Linked DNA regions of Homo sapiens. The protein of the gene in region 1 purifies or fractionates together with the protein of each later gene. This does not show direct contact. Each region holds a gene or a part of one and is shown on either strand. Other genes may lie near its edges.

Evidence for each region.
Region 2: the proteins of KIF17 (region 1) and KIFAP3 purify together in Homo sapiens (co-immunoprecipitation; one large-scale study listed by IntAct). This does not show direct contact.

Annotation. Positions count from the first base shown.
Region 1 is NC_000001.11:20,715,908-20,719,507, reverse strand, and holds the start of KIF17 (kinesin-like protein KIF17), read left to right. Parts: upstream 1-1,500; 5' UTR 1,501-1,801; coding exon 1,802-2,032; exon of another isoform or gene 2,033-2,159; intron 2,160-3,600. UniProt on the Homo sapiens protein: Dendrite-specific motor protein which, in association with the Apba1-containing complex (LIN-10-LIN-2-LIN-7 complex), transports vesicles containing N-methyl-D-aspartate (NMDA) receptor subunit NR2B along microtubules.
Region 2 is NC_000001.11:170,067,887-170,071,902, reverse strand, and holds part of KIFAP3 (kinesin-associated protein 3), read left to right. Parts: intron 1-2,985; exon of another isoform or gene 2,986-4,016. UniProt on the Homo sapiens protein: Involved in tethering the chromosomes to the spindle pole and in chromosome movement. Binds to the tail domain of the KIF3A/KIF3B heterodimer to form a heterotrimeric KIF3 complex and may regulate the membrane binding of this complex.

The DNA.
Region 1 (3,600 bases):
TGCACTGGCAACCTGGGCTTGCTTTCTGCTTCTGCAATGTGCCACAGGACCTCCGCACAGCCCAGACCGGCGTCCTCCTCCTCCTCCCTTCCCTTCACCTTGTTAACCACTCAGCCATCATATTTCAGCTCCAGTCAATCTCAGGATGCCTGCCCTACACCCTGGGCTGAGTGAGGTTCCTTTTTTAGATGTTCCATAGGCTGGGTGCAGTGATTCGTGCTAGTAATCCCAGCACTTTTGGAGGCCGAGGTGAGAGGATCGTTTGAGTCCAGAAATTGGAGACCAGCCTGGGCAACAAAATGAGATCCCATCTCTACAAAAAATTAGCCACTCGGGAGGCTGAGTTAGGAGGATCGCTTGAGACCTCCTGAGGTTGAGGCAGCAGTGAGCTATGATTGCACTCCAGCCTCAGTGACAGGGCAAGACCCTGTCTCAAAAAAAGATATGTTGCATGGAACTGATTATTCAGCTTGTAATTACATTTTCGTTTTCGGGATTTTGTTTGTGGGATTTTGTTTCCTGTGTCTGTCTCTCCAGCTAGATCATGCAGGAGGGCTGTCTCCCTAACATCTGTCACGGTGCCTGACATGTAGCCGACACTCAGTGTTTCAGTGCAAGGAAGAGCCCAGCGCCCAGAGGTGTGACGGAGGTGCTCTTTTGGCTGGGGAACTTGCACTGAGCCAGGAGGGATAGGCCAGGCAGCCTTCCATCCAAAAGACTTGTTTTTGTTTGTTTGTTTGTTTTAGATGGAATTTTGCTCTTGTTGCCCAGGCTGGAGTGCAATGATGCAATCTCAGCTCACTGCAACCTCTGCCTCCCGGGTTCAAGTGATTCTCCCGCCTTAGCCTCCTGAGTAGCTGGGATTACAGGTGCCCACCACCAGAGACGCGGGTTTCACCATGTTAGCCAGGCTGGTCTCGAACTCCTGATGTCAGGTGATCCACCCGCCTTGGCCTCCCAAAGTGCTGGGATTACAGACGTGAGCCACCGCGCCCGGCCCAAAAGACTTGCTCCCAAAGTGTTTGTTTTACAATCTCGGGTCTTAGAAATAACACGGGTGGCATGAGAGGAAGCTGTCCAGGGGCTGTGGGTGGTGGGCAGCCTTTCCCTGAGCCAGTACGGGGACGTGGATAAGGGGCAACAGGTCCTTGCCGCTTTTCCTAGGTCCCTGGCCCGTGCCTGAGGCCTGGGATCTCTGTAGCCCCGAGGTGGAGTCAAGCCTGGGGCCCCGGGCCCCAGTCTTAGCCGCAGCCTCGGGCAAGCTGCGTAACATCTCTGAACTGGGACTGTGCGGATTCGAGAAGGCAGCGGACGCGAAAGGAGCCCAGCCAGGGCTGGCGCTTCCCGCAAGCGGCCGCGCGTGGCTGCGGGGATCACTCGGGCGAAGCTCGCGGGCCAGGCGGGGCGTTCCCGGGGCCGCTCTTGTGACGCCACGGGCGTTGCCCAGCAACCGCGAACGCCGCGGCGGTGAGCTTGCGGGCAGGCGGCTGGGGCGGCTCCGGGCTCGGGTTCTGCGGCGGCGCCTGCAGCGCGGATCCCCCACGTCCCCGCTCGGGCCGGGCCTCAGAAACGGGCGAGCCCGGGCGCGGGAGGAAGCGGCGGCCCCGGCTCGGGTCCTGCGACGCCCAGCTCCCCTCCGGGGCGCCCCCCGAGGGGTCCCCGCCCCCCGCCGCGGCCCCGCCCCTGCCTCAAGGCCCCGCCCCCCGTGGCCGGCGCTGGCCCCGCCCCTTGGCCCGGGCTGCTGGGAGTCCCCGGCGGGGCGGGGGTCAGCTCTGGTCCCGTTGGTCCTGGGCGCGGCGCCATGGCCTCCGAGGCGGTGAAGGTTGTCGTGCGCTGCCGTCCCATGAACCAGCGGGAGCGAGAGCTGCGCTGCCAGCCCGTGGTGACTGTGGACTGCGCGCGCGCCCAGTGCTGCATCCAGAACCCGGGCGCCGCCGACGAGCCGCCCAAGCAGTTCACCTTCGACGGCGCCTACCACGTGGACCACGTCACCGAGCAGATCTACAACGAGATCGCCTATCCGCTGGTGGAGGTGAGGGCGCCCGGCAGGCCGCCCTGCAGGCGGCAGGGCATGAGGCCGCCCCGAGAGTCCCCAGGGGGCTGCGCTGCCCCCCAGCCAGGAGGAAAGGCCCTCGAGGGGCGCAGGCGGACGGGAACAGGTAGGTCCGGAGGCTTTTGTCCAGGCGGGACACAACCAGAGCCTGCCTCTAATGTCGCCTCCGGGTCTGCACTATCCCCAGCGTCTCCGCCTCCCGGGTTCAAGCGATTCTCCTGCCTCAGCCTCCCAAGTAGCTGGGATTACAGGTGCCTGCCACCACGCCCGTCTAATTTTTGTGTTTTTAGTACAGATGGGGTTTCACCATGTTGGCCAGGCTGGTCTCGAACTCCTGACCTCAAGTGATCCGCCCGCCAAGTGCTGGGATCACAGGCATGAGGCACCGCGTCCGGCCGAATGGTGACTTTTTATCTTCCCTCACTGGCAAGATGGGGCACACCTAGCCCTGTTTTGGTTACAGCATGGGTCTTTGCAGTGGAACCGGGCATAGATGCCATGTGGGCCCTTGGGGTCTCAGAACAATTCTCTGGGCCAATCTACCCATACAGGATCCACCCCAAGCCCACACTAAGGTCTAGAATTTGCAAGCTCATGAGCTCTGCAAGGGCAGGAACTGTGTCTGCCTCGTTCACCACTTTGTCCGTAGGCTGAGCATAGTCCCTGTCGAATGAATAGAAACAGCGATGAATGAAGAATGACTTTGGGAATGACTTTGGGAACAGCACCGGGTTTGCCTCCTCTCTTCCTTCCAGGCCTCATCTTCCACCCCTCCCCTAGTCCCTCCTGCTCTCCACACCTCATCTGTGTGGCTTTACTCAAGCTGACCCCTCAGCCTGGAATGCCTTCCTCTTCCTGTCACCTGGCAAAGTACGAGCCCCACTCCCAGCTCCCCCAGTTCTCCCTGTCTTTGCCGCCTGGAAAGCTGTGCTTCGTTCTTCCTGTGCCATCCTGTTTTCGCTTCTTTGTACTCCCTGTCCCTGCCGGCTGGCTGCCTGGACTCTTGTCGCTGTGTGCCCCGCCCCATAGCCCGCCACGAGAATCACCTGTACGTGTCCAGCTCCCTGCATTGCAGGCAGACATTGGGCCATCACCTGTGTATGGCAGTGCTTCCTGTGCCCATGCACGAAAGAAGCCCTGTATGCACCCTGTGAGAGCCCCGCAGGTGCTGCTCTTACCCTTTAAGATATTGATTTTTTTTTTTTTTTTTTTTGAGACGGAGTCTCGCGCTGTCGCCCAGGCTGGGGTGCAGTGGCACGACCTCGGCTCACTGCAATCTCCTGGGTTCAATAAATTCTCCTGCCTCAGCCTCCCGAGTAGCTGGGACTGCAGGAGCTCACCACCACACCCGGCTAATTTTTCGTATTTTTAGTAGAGACAGGGTTTCACCGTGTTGCCAAGGCTGGTTTTGAACTCCTGACCTCAGGTAATCTGCCCACCTCAGCCTTCCAAAGTGCTGGGATTACAGGCATGAGCCACCCCGCCTGGCCCAAGGTGTTTTTCTTATCATCTTATCAATTTGCCTCAGTAAGGCCAGCCCAAGGGCA
Region 2 (4,016 bases), about 150 Mb from region 1:
TATATCAAGGTCCATCTGTGTGGTAGCATGTATCAGTACTTCATTCCTTTATATAGCTGCATAATATTTGCTGTGGTTTGGATATAGTTCGTTTCCACCAAAGCTCATGTTAAAACTTGGTCCCCCATTGTGGCAGTGTTGGGAGCTGGAGCCTGGGAGGTGTTTCAGTTTTGGGGGTGGATCCCTCATGAATGGCTTGGTGCTGTTCTTGCTGGAGTGAGTGAATTCTTGCTCTAGTGAGACTGGATTAGCTCTCTTGGGAATGGATTAGTTCCCTCTAGAGTTGGTTGTTATAAAGCCAGGAAGACCCTTGGGTATTCTCTTTTCTCACTTCCCCTTTGATCTTGTCCACTGTGTTATAATGAAGCACAAAAGCCCTCACTGGAAGCCAGAGTCATGCCCTTGAACTTCCCAGCCTGCGGAACTGTAAGCTAAATAAACCCCTTTTCCTTATAAATTACCTAGTCTCAGGTATTGTGTTATAGCAACATAAAATTGACTAATTCAGTATTCCATTTTATGGATATACCACATTTTGTTTGTTTATTGCTCATCTGGTGGTGGACATTTGGGTTGTTTCTACCTATTGGCTATTGGGAATAAAGCTGCTGTGAACATTACTGTACAAGTTTTTGTTTGAACACTTGTTTTGTATCTTTTGGTGTATACCTAGGCCTGGAATTGCCAGACCATATGGTAATTCTATGTTTAATTCATTGAGGAACCACTAAAGTGTTTTCCCTAGTGACTGCACCATTTTACATTCCCACCAGCAATGTATAAGAATTCAGTTTTCCGTATCCTCACTAACACCTGTTATTTTCTGTTCTGTAATTATTACTATACTAGTGGATATCAAATGGTATCTTATTTTGGTATTGATTTGCCTTTCCCTAATTACTAATGACATTGAGCTTTTCATGTGCTTCTTGGCCATTTGTCTTTATTCTTTGGGAAAAGGAGTTCTTTGTAATAGAACCTTGTCAGATACATGATTTACAGATACTTTGTCCCATTCTGTGGGTTTTCTTTGCACTATCTTGGTATGTAAAACTTTCATATGCAAACATTTTTAATTTTGGTGAAGTCTAATTTATTCTTTTGTTGCTCATGCTTTTGGCATCGTTATTTAAGAAACCACTGCTAAATCCAAGGTCATGAAGGTTTGTCCCTCTGTTTTCTTCTAAGAGTTTTACAGTTTTAGCTTTTACATTTAATATCCTTGATCCATCTCGAGTTAGTTATTGTCTATGGTATATGGCAAGGGTCCATCTTCATTCTTTTATATGTGACTATCTAGTTGTTCTGACATCATTTGTCAGAACAAATGTCAGAAAAGAACAATTGACTGTTCTTTTCCTCCATGAATGGTTTGGGCAATTTTTTTGAAAATTAAATGACCAAAAATGTTGGGGTTTATTCCTGCACTCTCAATTATATTTCATTGATCTATCTGTCCGTGTGCTAGTACCTCACTGTTTTGATTACTGAAGCTTTGTAGTGAGTTTTGAAATCCAGAAGTGTGAGTCCTCCAACTTTGTTGTTCTTTTTCAAGGTTGTTTCAGCTATTTAGGGTTCCTTATATTTCCATTTGAATTTTAGGGTTGGCTTTTTCATTTCTGCAAAAAAAGCTATTGAAACTTTGGGAATATAATGAATCTATAGATCACTTTGGGGAATATTGCCATCTTAACAATATTAAGTCCTTCAGTCCATGAACATGTGATTTCTTTTCATTTAGTTCATATTAATTTCTTTCAGCAACTTTTTGTTTTCAGTATACAGTTGTTCCTTGGTTACGTTTACTCCTGAGTATTTTATTCTTTTTGATGCTATTGGAAATGAAGTTTTCTAAATTTCCTTTTCATATTTTTCAGCTCCAATATGTAGAAAAACAGTGGATTTTTTTGGTGTGTTCTGATCTATTCTCCAACTTTGCTGAATTTATTAGCTCTAGCCAGTTTTTTGTGCCATTTTTAGAATTTTCTATATATAAGATTATGTCTTCTGCAGATAGAAATAATTTTACTTCTTCTTTTTCAATCTGGATGCCTTTTTATTTTTTTTTCCCATGCCTCATTGCTCTGGCTAGAATTTCCAGTACTATGTTGAATAGAAGTCAGGAAAGTGGATAAACATTCTTGTCTTGTTCCTGATCTTAGGGGGAAAGCTTTCATTCTTTCACCATTGAGTATGATATTGGCTGTAGATTTTTCATATATGCCCTTTATTATGTTAAGGGACTTTTCTTCTATTCCTAATTTATCAAGTACTTTTATCATGAAAAGATGTTGGGTTTTGTCAGATGCTTTTTTCTGCATCGATTGAGATAATCATGTACTTTTTTTCTTCATTCCATTAATGTGGTGTATTGTATTGAAATGCCCATGTGGCCATGTTGCGTGGTCCTTTTAATATACTCCTGTATTCTGTTTGCTAGTATTTTGAGGATTTTCACATCGACATTCATAAAGGGTATTGGTCTAAAGGTTTTCCTGTAGTGTCTTTGTCTTGCTTTGGTATCAGGGTAATGGTGGCCTCATGGAATGAATTAGGAAGTGTTTCCTCTACTGTTATATCTTTTGGAAGAGTTTGAGGGGTATTTATGTTAATTTGTCTTTAAATGCTTGGTAGAATTCACCAGTGAAGCCATCTGGTACTGGACTTGTTGAAAGGTTTATGATTACTGATTCAATCACCTTACTTCTAATTCTGTTCAGATTTTCTGTGTCTTTTGAGTCAGTTTTGGTAGTTTGTGTGTTTCTAGGAATTATTCTTTTTCATGTAGGTTATCCAATTTGTTGGTGTTCATATTATTCTCTTGTAATTTTTTAATCATCAAAAGAGCAGCAGTAATGTCCCACTTTCATTTCTGATTTTAGTAATTTGAGTCTCTTCTTTTCTTTTTTAGTCAGTCTAACTAAAAGTTTTCCAAAAATGTTTGTTGATCTTTTCAAAGAACTAACCTTTGGTTTCATTTTCTCTATTCTTTTTCTAGTCTCTGTTGCTGCTTTTTATTATTTCCTTCTGCTAGCTTGGGGTTTTGTTTGCTCTTCTTTTTCTAGCCCCTTAAGGTGTAAAATTAGGTTATTAATTCAAAATCTTTTATTTATTTTTTTAAATAGAGCGTCAGTATAGAGTGTCTTATTGTGGATCTGTTTGAGTTTATCTTTGAATTTCATTGAGCTTCTTGGATGTGTAAGTTTGTCTTTGGTCTAATTTGGGAAGTTTTTGACTGTTTTTTCTCCCAGTATTCTCTATGTTTCTTTCTTCCTCTCCTTTCATACCCTCATTATGCATATGTTGGTATACTAGATGGTGTTCCATAAGTCTCTTAGGTTCTGTTTATTTTTCTTCATTCTGTTTTCTTTCTGTGCCTCAAAATGGACAGTTTCATTTGACATATCTTCAAGTTTGCTGATTCTTTTCTCTCTCTGCTCAGATCTGCTGTTAAAAACCCTGTAGTGATTTTTTTATTTCAGTTATTGTACTTTTCAGATCTAGTGTTTTTGTTTGGATCCTTATGATAATATATTTTTAAACTATTTATGTGTTGAGACATTGTGTTTCTCCTTTTTCTTAGTTATTTGCACTGGTTTCTTTTTGCTCTTTGGACATATTTAAGACAGTTGATTTAAAGTCTTTGATAAGTCCAGTGTTTGTGCTGTAGCATGGACAGTTTCTGTTAATTTTTTTTATTGTGAGAATGAGAATGAGTTTCTTGTTTCTTTGCATGTTTCATATTTTGTTTTGTTGAAAACTGGGTATTTTGAATATTATGGTATCCAAAGGAAAAAAAGAAAAGAAAAAAATACTCTTCAGATCTTTGTAGGTTGACTCAGTGTTTGGATATGGCTTCAACACTTAGCCAGGCAATTTACAATTTTACCTTAGCCTTCATTTGCTGCTTGCACAGAGCCTGAAGACCAGCCAGAGGTAAAAGCTTATGATCTTCCCAGGTTTTTTCTGGGTATGTATTCTGCCCTGAGCATGCTCATGGATTTCTAGATTTCTCT